2 separate regions of the Homo sapiens genome follow, and region 1 is linked to region 2. The links come from fine-mapping of genetic effects on gene expression. A gene starts in region 2. The other region holds a variant in brackets. All regions are shown on one strand. Distances are from middle to middle.

Evidence for each region. PIP is the estimated chance that this variant, and not a neighbour inherited with it, causes the effect.
Region 1: its variant is fine-mapped to the expression of CPA5 in whole blood (TOPMed, PIP above 0.99).

The regions. Positions count from the first base shown.
Region 1 is chr7:130,366,441-130,371,741 of GRCh38, forward strand. It overlaps CPA5 (carboxypeptidase A5), which reads left to right. Exons shown (of 13, transcript NM_080385.5): 11 at 932-1,131; 12 at 1,466-1,550; 13 at 1,970-2,290. The coding sequence ends at 2,157. LOC105375504 (a long non-coding RNA gene) reads right to left here and starts at 687. Exons shown (of 2, transcript NR_133928.1): 1 at 390-687. The variant A/G (reference allele first, on the strand shown) is at 1,978.
Region 2 is chr7:130,341,933-130,347,258 of GRCh38, forward strand. CPA5 (carboxypeptidase A5) reads left to right here and starts at 2,884. Exons shown (of 13, transcript NM_080385.5): 1 at 2,884-3,273; 2 at 3,907-3,964; 3 at 4,461-4,669. The coding sequence starts at 4,554. The region is part of intron 1 of LOC105375503 (a long non-coding RNA gene); the gene reads right to left. LOC124901837 (small nucleolar RNA U13) reads left to right here and starts at 2,483; the gene lies at 2,483-2,586. RefSeq lists an enhancer at 4,076-5,045.

The sequences.
Region 1 (5,301 bases), 24 kb after region 2:
AAGCAGAGGAGGAGCAGAAGAGGAAGACAGAGATGGGGCGAAGGCAAAGAGTCCAGGGGGAAATGGAAACAAATGAAACTTGGGAAAAGAATAAAAGCCCTGCTCCTCTTTGTTCTCTCCCTCATCTTAAGTCCCCAAGAAGAATTTTCAAAGACTTCTTTGCACCTCTGGCTCCCAGAACAGCCTCAGGCAACTATGGGGAACTATTCTCCCGTATTGGTTTCCCATATCCCCAGACCCCAAGTTCATGGCGCACCTGGGGCCATGGCTGTGGCAAAGCTTCAGCTGACACCGAGTCTGAGCCCTCAACTGATGGCACACCCAGGAACGGTCAGCCTAAAGGCATTTGCTGCTCACTAGGGGAAGCCAGGGTTGGGGCAGAGACTTACAGTTTCCTCTGGATGCAACTTCTGAGCCAGGCCCACCTTCCTAAAGGGACCACAGGACAAGCCGAGGGGGCTCCCTGCAGGGCTTCAGAACTGCAGGGTATGGTGCGGCTGCAGTCCTCTGACATATTAGATTAGAGGATGCAGCAGTAACAAATATCCATCCCAATCTCAGTGGTTTAACACAATGAAAGTTTGTTTTTCATGCACACAAAGTCCAACATGAACAGGTGACTCTCCTTGGCGGCTTTCTTCCGCAGTGAGAGAGGGATCCAGGAGGCTGTTTCTATCTAGAATTTTTTTTTTTTGCTTCCAGCCACACAGACAGAAAAGAGCATGGAGAAGTCACACTTGCTCTTAACAATCTCAACCCAGAAGTGCCGTGTCATTTCTGCTCACCTTTCCATTGGTCAAAGTAGTCACATGACCTCAGTCATACTGCAAAGGAGGCTGGGAAATGTAGGGGAACACACAGGTATTTTGTGAGCACCGTCTGTGTCGCACGTGGGGATTTGACTCTTTGGGTGGCTTTATTTTACTTCCAGGAAATGGTTCTAACAGCAACCCCTGCTCAGAAACTTATCACGGGCCCTCCCCTCAGTCGGAGCCGGAGGTGGCTGCCATAGTGAACTTCATCACAGCCCATGGCAACTTCAAGGCTCTGATCTCCATCCACAGCTACTCTCAGATGCTTATGTACCCTTACGGCCGATTGCTGGAGCCCGTTTCAAATCAGAGGGAGTTGGTGAGACTGGCTGCTTAGGGCCTGGGGAGAAGAGACCGCTTCACAGGAAAATCCATATCTGTCATACTCCCAGAGGGCTCAGGTTGTTACTCTGAATGCAGGGGTCTGGGCTGATTGACCCCATGGTGCGGGGGTGGGGTAGGGGGAGCTTGCTGTTCTCACGTGTGATCAAGTTCAAAGCTGGAAATGCTGTGCTCCCTTCTCACAAGGGCCATCTCCACCTTCAACTTCCAGGACTGCTAAATCCATGCTTCTCACCAGCTGGTGAGGGTGGGGGAGTGTGTGGGAGCCCCGGGGAGCCCCTGCCTTTCACCCCGCCAATGTCATCTTGCAGTACGATCTTGCCAAGGATGCGGTGGAGGCCTTGTATAAGGTCCATGGGATCGAGTACATTTTTGGCAGCATCAGCACCACCCTCTGTGAGTGAGCCTCCCCTGGCCCTGCTTCAGACACCACATCTACCTGGGGCTGGCTGCAGGGCAGTGCCAAGGATCTAGCTGTGCTGGCCCAAAGCTGCCTCCCACACTGGATAGAAGGGTGAACAGTGGTACCCAGGGAGCTGTTTCTTGGCAGCTTTTGTGCACAGCTCCCAGTGCCTGGCTTACTGCAAGGTTCCTAAGCCTAGTAGCCTGCAGGAGCTTTCTTTTTGCAGGAGTAGAGAATGGGCTGGGTGCACAGATGTGATCCTGTTTGAGGCCTGGGCAGGAAGCCTGGTGTGGCCTGGGGTGGGTGGGGGTTTGGCTCCCAGGGCTCACTTTCCACCCAGGATGCCTCTGTACCTTGCAGCCACATCCCCTTCTTCCTTTTGTGGGGCACATTTTGGAACTTTTGTTTCTAGATGTGGCC[A/G]GTGGGATCACCGTCGACTGGGCCTATGACAGTGGCATCAAGTACGCCTTCAGCTTTGAGCTCCGGGACACTGGGCAGTATGGCTTCCTGCTGCCGGCCACACAGATCATCCCCACGGCCCAGGAGACGTGGATGGCGCTTCGGACCATCATGGAGCACACCCTGAATCACCCCTACTAGCAGCACGACTGAGGGCAGGAGGCTCCATCCTTCTCCCCAAGGTCTGTGGCTCCTCCCGAAACCCAAGTTATGCATCCCCATCCCCATGCCCTCATCCCGACCTCTTAGAAAATAAATACAAGTTTGAACAGGCTTCGCTGCCTCTCGTGTTGGCTACCACCCCTATGGGCTCAGCACTGACAAGGGGACGAGAGGCTGCTTCTCATTCCGCAGGGGAGCCTGAAATGTGGGGGAAGCCTCTGCACTCTCCAGTCTACCTTCAGGAAAATAAGGGGGTAGAGGCTGTAGCTTTTCTCCTCTTGCAGTGTTTTCAGGGCCCGGAACACAGAAGGCACACATTGTCCCAGCATATTTACATTTTAAGATGCTCCTGGAGGGGACAATGTTTGCTCTAAAAGAGCATTTCTGATGGGGGCATTTCTGCCACCTTGAGGGAAAGGTTGGCCCAGACAGGCCACCTCTGCCTCGGTTGGCTTCACTTCCCATGCAGGGAGGGAGCAGGAGCACATTTTGGAGGTTACCACTCACCCCACAACCCAACACGAATGAGTCATTGGCTTATGACCTGCTCCCCCCGAGGTGTCCTCAAAGGCTCCCTGGGTCTTGGGAACACAGGGTCAGAGCTAGTCAGAGCCAGCACATCAAAGCACCGCATATCCAGGAAGAAGAGCTTCTCATCATCATCATCAGCGACACCATCCTGGTTGTCATCCCTGAGCTGTGTTAAGTAGGCACTTCCCCTAAGAGAGTTAAAGGGGCACTCGTGAGATACTAAGAAGACTCCTTCCCCCAGCCCCAGGCCTCCTTGTACCTTTTGCCTCTTCATTCTGTCTGCTGCCTTCTGGGAAATGATGGGACTGGCAGGCTGTACTATGCAGCAGGGATAGCAGGGCTGTTTGCTCTGCCCTCAGGAAGGCAGATAACCCCTAGAAACAGGAAGAGCCAAATGAGGTTGTGTAAGTCTGAGGCAGAAACATTAGTCGTGAGAGCAAGACTTGCATTTGCAAGAGCCAGGCTGTGTGTGTGTTTGTGTGTGTGCGTGTGTGTGTGTGCATGTGTGTGCACGTGTGTGCATGTGCGTGTGTGTGTCCGTGTGTGTGTGTGTAAAACTGGATGGCCAAGAGCCAACCCCTGGAGGGCACGGAGACAGGGAAGAAAACAGAGTGAAACAAAAATATTTGTGTAGAAGGCATAAAAGTTATCATCACAGACTCCACTGTGTAAAGGCATAACTTGCTTTATTTATCTCTAGTGTATATGAACTTAGCCTCCCTTTCCATTCAGCCTGTGAAAGGAGATAGTGCTTGGGCCATTTGGTAGAAGAAGGGGATGGGAGATGATCAAAACCCCAAGTAAGGTTCATATCCAATATAGTGTCTAAGCAGCAAATGACTAATGGCCGAAGAAGGAGACTAGACAGAGGATTAGAGGCAGCCATGGGGCTGGTGCAGCTGTGGAGAGCTCTGAGCAAAGAAACAAGGTTGGCAGGTGAGGAGGCCTAGGATAGAGGCCAGAAGGCCAAACCTGGGGCTGTGCAGCCAGTGGTCATGGTGGCACAGCAGGCACTGGCTGGGCATTGGCTGGGCATGCAGATGCCCAAGGCCAGCTGTGCCACATAGAAGCCCTGAGGAAGTGAGGGTAATTAACCCCTGAACAACCCAGATCATCTTCAGGGGAACAGCCAGCAGCAGAGGAGGAGAAAATCTTGACTTTGGCTGAAGTTTCCCACAGGAGACTTTTTTTTTTTAAAGCTGGAATTGGTCTGAGTGAGCTAGAATTTCCAACCCAAAGTTTTCTGCTGCTAGTGGAAATTCGAGGTCATGGGCTAAGTTAATATAAGCTAGAGGTAAATAAAGCCAGTTATACCTTTGCACAGTGGAGTCTGTGATTATAACTTTTATGCTGTCGATACAAATATTTTTATTTTTATTTCATCCTCTTGGGGAGGGTATTCCTGGTATTAATAAGTTCATTGTTTTAGATAAGGAAAGCAAGGTTCGGAGATGTTTCAAAAGCCATACAAGGCCACAATGGAGAGAAAATTGTTGAGAAAGATTTGAACTTGGGTTTGTCAAACTCCAAAACCACTGTCACCATTTGTCCAAGTGCAGCCGGTGGCCCATCTGCAGCAGAATCCGTGGAGACTTGTTTAACAGGAAGGGATTTGGTTCCATCTCCAGACCGAATTAGAATATCTGGGGGCAGACACCCCAAATCTGCATTTTTACCAACTGCCCAAGGAGTTCTGAGGTATCTTCAAATACCCACTGACCCCTGTTCCCCTGCCTCCCGGGAAGAATATATTCCAGTCTTCCGGGGGGAGTTGGGCCTTGGGTCTCCCCACTCTGCCATTGTCCACTGGGGCTGGAGGTGGCTGCCACAGAGGGAGGCCAGTCATTCTCTAGAGTACTTCCTGGGGGCTGCCTTGGCCCTAGCCTAAAGCAGTGTGGTCTGCAGACCACAGGCATCACATCACCTGGGAGCTTAGTCCCAGCCCTACTAAATCCAAGTCTCTAGTGGGTGGGGCCTAGGAGATTTGAATGCCAAATTGGACAAGAACTGGCCTAGGGGCAGGAGGCCTTGGGCTCTGATGAGCTTCCCAAGCCGAAATAAACTCTTTTCTAGCACTTACAATGTGCCAGGCACGGTGCCAAGTGCATTAGGGGTTTCAACATGTCGCCTCCTCACAGCTCTCAGAGGCAGGACTATTACTGTCCTTATTTTCAGCCAAGGAGGTGACTCAGGCTCAGACAGGATGGTTGCTGAAAGGCACACAGGTCCTGAGTGGCAGGGTTTGGGCTGACCTGCAGGCTGGTAGCTCATCATCTGCCTTCAGAACCTGAACCCAACTCACGGCCAAGGCTCTGCAGGATCAGGGATGAGGAACTTGTTCTCACAGCCAGCTTGGCCAGATCTCTGTACAGCCATTAAGCTCACAAAAGTTGAGGCTGAAACTGCTGTCCAGATGGAGGTCTTCTTTTTTTTTTTTTGAGACGGAGTTTTGTTCTTGTTGCCCATGGTGCGATCTTGGCTCACCACAACCTCTGCCTCCCGGGTTCAAGTGATTCTCCTGCCTCAGCCTCCCGAGTAGCTGGGATTACAGGCATGTGCCACCACGCCTGGCTAATTTTGTATTTTTAGTAG
Region 2 (5,326 bases):
TTTAATTTAGAGTGGTCGCAGGTTGGTAGTGTCCCCAGCAACTTACAGAAGTAAACGCAAATCTTTTCTGGAAGAACCCACCTTCAACCCAGGCCTCAAGGGATTCTCACAGATAAATGTTCAAGGAAAATGATTGGTTCACAGGTATGTGGCATGAGAGAAAATGCACCATGAGTGAGAACCAGCGGAAAGAATAGGCAGCAGAAACAGACTTAAAACATCTAGGAATTGTAATTATCTAACACAGAATATAAAATATCTGTCTTATACGTTTAAAGAAATAAGAAATTCTAAAATAGATAAGAAATTCAAGTCATTTGGGCTTGAATCAGAAAAAAAGAATCAAATAGAACTTCCAAAAATGAAAAATGAATATCATATTGCATTGACTATAAAACAGGATCAATTTTATAAGATGCACCATAATTTTATGTGCCACCTTAGCATTGCAAGATGCCACCAATTGTAAGATGTATCCTGATTTTAGCAGTGTTAAAAATGTGAAAAAAATAGGTTGCAGAATCAATGAACCGTAGCAATTGAAAGGTAAAACTTCACAGATCAATTAAATTGCAGATTAAACTCAGCCAATGAAGAATCAGGTAACTGGAATAAAGACAAAAATATTTTTTACTAATAAATTATCCAGAATGTAGCCCAGAGAGACCACACAATGGAAATATAGCAGAATGCTTATGAGTCTTGGGGGCTAGAATGAGGAGGTCCAGTCAAAAGTTCCAGATGAAGGTAATAGAGAGGAAAAGGGGCAATGTTTAAAAATATAATGGCTGAGAAATTTGGAAAATAATAGAAAGCGAGTGACACTCAGATACAGGAATTCAAATGATTCTCAAGCAAGACAAAACAAAAAAAATCCATACCTGGACTTACGATGATAAAACTGTGGAACATCAAAAGCAAAGAGAAGCTCTTCAAAGAAACCAGGAACAAAGAGAGGTCACCTTCTGAAGAACAGTAAGTCAACAAACATTACCTTTTAGCAGCAAAAATGGAAGCCAGAAGACTGTGGGATAATATTTTCAATGTGTTGAGAGGAAAACAGTAATCAACTTGGAATTTCTATCCCAAAAAACCCTTTCAAGAATGAGAGCAAAATAATTCTTTCTTTCTTTCTTTCTTTTTCTCTTTCTTTCTTTCTTTCTTCTTCTTTCTTTCTTTCTTCCTTCCTTCCTTCTTCTTTCTTCTTTTCTTTCTTTTTCTTTCCTTCTTTCTTCTCTTTCTTTCTTTCTTTCTTTCTCTTTTTTCTTTCTTCTTTCTTTATTCTTTTTTTTCCTTTCTTTCTCTTTCCCTCTCTCCTTTCTTTTTTTTTCTGTCTGTCCTTCCTTCCTTCCTTCCTTCCTCGCTCCCTCCCTCTCTCCCTCCCTCCCTCTCTTCCTCCCTCCCTCCCTTCCTTATTTCTTTTCTTTTTCTTTTTTTCTTTTTTTTTTTTTTGAGATAGGTTTTTGTTCTGTCACCCAGGCTGGAGTATGGTTCTCTGCAGCCTCAAAGTCCTGGGCTCAGTTGATCTGCTTGCTTGCTTCCCGAGTAGCTAGGACTACAGATGCGTGCCTCACCATGCCCAGCTAATTTTATTTTATTTTTGCAGAGATAGGGTCTCCCTGACTTGCCCAGGCTGGTCTCGGACTCCTGGGCTCAAGCGAACTCCTGGGCTCCTCCTGCCTTGGCCTCCCAAAGCACTGGGATTACAGATGTGAGCTGCCATACCTGGCCAAAAATTTTCAAATAAGTAAAAACAGAAACCTTAACTAAAGGAAGGTTTGAAAAGATAGATTTGAAGCAGAGGGAAGATGATTCTAGATACATGGTACATGCATCCAGTAGGAAAATCAAGAACACCAGCATTCTGAGAAGTTCTCTGAGGCAAAACTTGCTTACCACTTGGGTGTCTGTCTGGCTTTTCCTTCTTTTTGGGATCTATAGATTCTTATTTTTGTGCCAACCCAGCAATGGCTTTAGAAAGTTGTTACTAAAAATATTTTCTTCTGCATTTGAGTTCTTTCATTTGGGCAAGATTGCTTAGGTATCTAACCCACCCCACCTGCAGGAAATAAAAGTCCTCCAAAAAAATTTCTAATTTAGGGAAACTCTCCTTCAGTCTATGTGGAGCCCATGTTCCCCGTCCTCATGGTACAATGTGCCTTTCCCTTGTAACACAAACACCATCTATAGTTTTACACTTATCTGGAGTGAGATGGGCTACCATTATGTCTTGGGTTTACCAATTATCTTCATGCTATTTAAATTAATTTTCTACTTACGCCTTTAGAAATGTAAGGGCCAGATATGTGTTGCTTTCTATTTTGTTTCCAGACTTTAGCAAGTGCCTGGAACATAGCAGGTATTCAGAGGACATTTACTGAGTAAATGATTAGGTGAGTAATTAATTATAAGTGAAAAGCCAAAATGAGGTATTAGGTCAAGCATAGCTATGTGTCTCCGCTTCAAATCCAGCCATAAGCTGATAATTGCAGTTCATAAGTATGATAATTGGGTGCTCACGCATGCGTGTGTGAGATGTGTCACCCTCAAACCTTGTTATGACGTCAGCACATTACCCGTCTAACATGAACTTAGAAGAAGCAAAACCAAAAACAAATCCAGCCATTGGAGATGGTGCTTTCAGGGTTGGTGAATTCCCAGAGAACTCTGCTGTCCAATATGGTAGCCATTAGCCACATGTGGCTATTTAAATTTTATTTAAATTAATTAAAGTTAAATACAACTCCAAAATCAATATTCAACCACAATAGCCACATTTCAAGAGGTTAGTGGCTATCCTACTGGGGGGTGTGGACATAGAATATTTCCATTATCACAGAAAGTTCTATTGGAAGCTATGTCATAGAATTCTCAAAACTTCCTAACTGCTTCTCTCTCTCTCTTTTACTCTTATTCTTTCTCTCTCACTCTCTCTCTTTTCCCACCCTTAAGCCAAGTACAGGGATAGTTGTCTCATCATTGGTGGCTTAAAATGATGTTTTTGAACAAGAAGACGCCCCATGGGTACTTTTGGTGACTAGCACTATCTCTGTTTTTTTCCTTTTAAATTCCTGAGCTATTGTTTAGCAGTACACCCTTTTATCTCCATTGCTACTGAAGCTGAATGTTACTTGGGTGGAAAGCATAACTGCTTTCTTTTCTATGTCCTTAAACCCTTTGATAATGTTACTGTTTGAGAGTCCCTGAAGCCAGGATACTAGAAGAGTCTGGCTTGTCTGAACAGCTGAACTACGAAATAATGGAGTAGGGCAGGTGGGTGGGGGAGCAGGGCGTTCTGTCGATAAACGAGCTCCCTTCTTTGCACACATAGCCAGTTAATCGGCCATTCTGAGATAGTTTGGATGGGGAGGGGGAGCTTCTGAGAATCGCCAGTGACAGTTAAGTGGCCTATTGTTGACGTCCTCTGCTGAACGACTTGGTTGGATTCAGCTTCTGCCTTACCCCCACCCCCTGTGGATTTTCTGTTAGATTCATCATTTGCCATTCAGGCATCATCTTTCACTTTCTCCTTCCAACATGACTGCTTTGTGTGCTGGCCCCTGCTTTACTCCTGCTATTCCCAAACTATAAAGGGAACTGTGTGGGGCTTCAGCAGGACTGAGAAATTGACTCTGCTGTCTGTTGAGAACTCTAATAATGACTGCGGTGACCTTCATGTCTAGCAGAAAACCCACTGTCTGTGCTAGCACAATGATGACCACCTGAAGACAGAGAAAAGGGAATCTTGATTGAATTCCTTCTCATACAATATATAGTTATTTCCTTTGTTCTCCTCTCCATTCTCTTCTCTTCCCCTTCTCCCCATCGCCACTGGAGGACTGATCTCAAATGCAGCTGTGACTAAAAGTTAATGCCTTTTGAATAATAATACATTGCATTTTGCAGGCTTTACCAAGCCAATTCACTCAAGTTGTCTCATCTATACCCCTTCAAACCCTGTGAGGTAGGGAGGGGAGGTATGATTAACCCCATTTGATGGATGAGTAAACTGAGATTTAGAGATTAGGGCAGCTGCCCCAGATATTTTAGACGGGAAGTGAGCACCCAGTCTCTGTCTCTAAGTCCAGCGGTGTTTCAATGGCATCCACACCTTATGTGTAAGGAGGATATGGCCCAGGGAAAGCATGAGTGGGCTAGGCGGAGAAGAAGAGCGAAAGAGAAGATGCTGTAGAGGAGGGAGGAAAGGAGGGGTATCCCAGGGCTGCTGGCTACTTTGGTCTTTCTCCAGAGATGGAAGCTTTGATGCTCACAAGGGGCTGCCCTGGCAAACCTCCTGAGAGAAAAGAAAAGCTAAGGCCTGTCTTCCTCCTTCTCTCTTCCCTCTCCCCTTCCCAGGAGAGGATGTGCTGGGTTGGGGAGGGGCAGCCCTAGCTCTCCCAAGGCCTGGCATGTGGGAGCCACATGCTGGGTGCCCCAGACAGCCTAATGCTCTTTCTCAGGCTGGGCTTTCCAGCCTCTAGGTGCTGTGCTGTCCTGAGGCCTGGGCCATGGTGCCCAAGGAAAGCCCCTGAAGCTCACCAGGAGGAAGAAGCATGCAGGGCACCCCTGGAGGCGGGACGCGCCCTGGGCCATCCCCCGTGGACAGGCGGACACTCCTGGTCTTCAGCTTTATCCTGGCAGCAGCTTTGGGCCAAATGAATTTCACAGGGTGAGTGGCTGCTCCACAGTGGGAGGGAGGACTGGCTGGGAGGAGGGGACTGGGTGTCCCAGCAGGAGGTGGCTGCCCTGCTGGTGCCTGATCAAGGCGGAGAGTCAGGATGTGGGTTCCTGTCCTGAACCCACTTCCAGCTCCACAGCCTCCCACTTTCATGCTCCGGGGCTGGCTCGTTGGTGGTCCTCCCCAAATCCAGAGTTCTTAATCCAGAGTCCAGGAGGAAGCCCCCGGGGCTCCAAGAATCCCCTGAAACCACATGCAACAGTTTTCCTATACAACAGGGGCTTCTTCGGGGAGGATGCATTCATAGCTTTCCTCCGATTCTCAGAGAAGTTGTAGCCCCCACAAGACTACATACCCCTACCAAAAATGGATGTGGGTGTCGTTCTCCTTCGAATGACAGGAAGTTCTAGTATTACACGCCAGGCCCTCTGTGGATGTACTTTGAGCCTCTCCAAGGTCCACAGGTGGATGCCCCACAGTGCTCCACAGTAGAGAAGAGGAGACACAGCGAGCGTAGAGATGGGGTTCCTCACCCACGGTCTCAGAGCCAGCCTGTGAGGGCACCAACCCCATCCCAGGTGTCGCACCCCAGAGCCCACACCACAGGCCTCTTGGATACGCAACCTCCACTCACCTCCATCGGGAAGG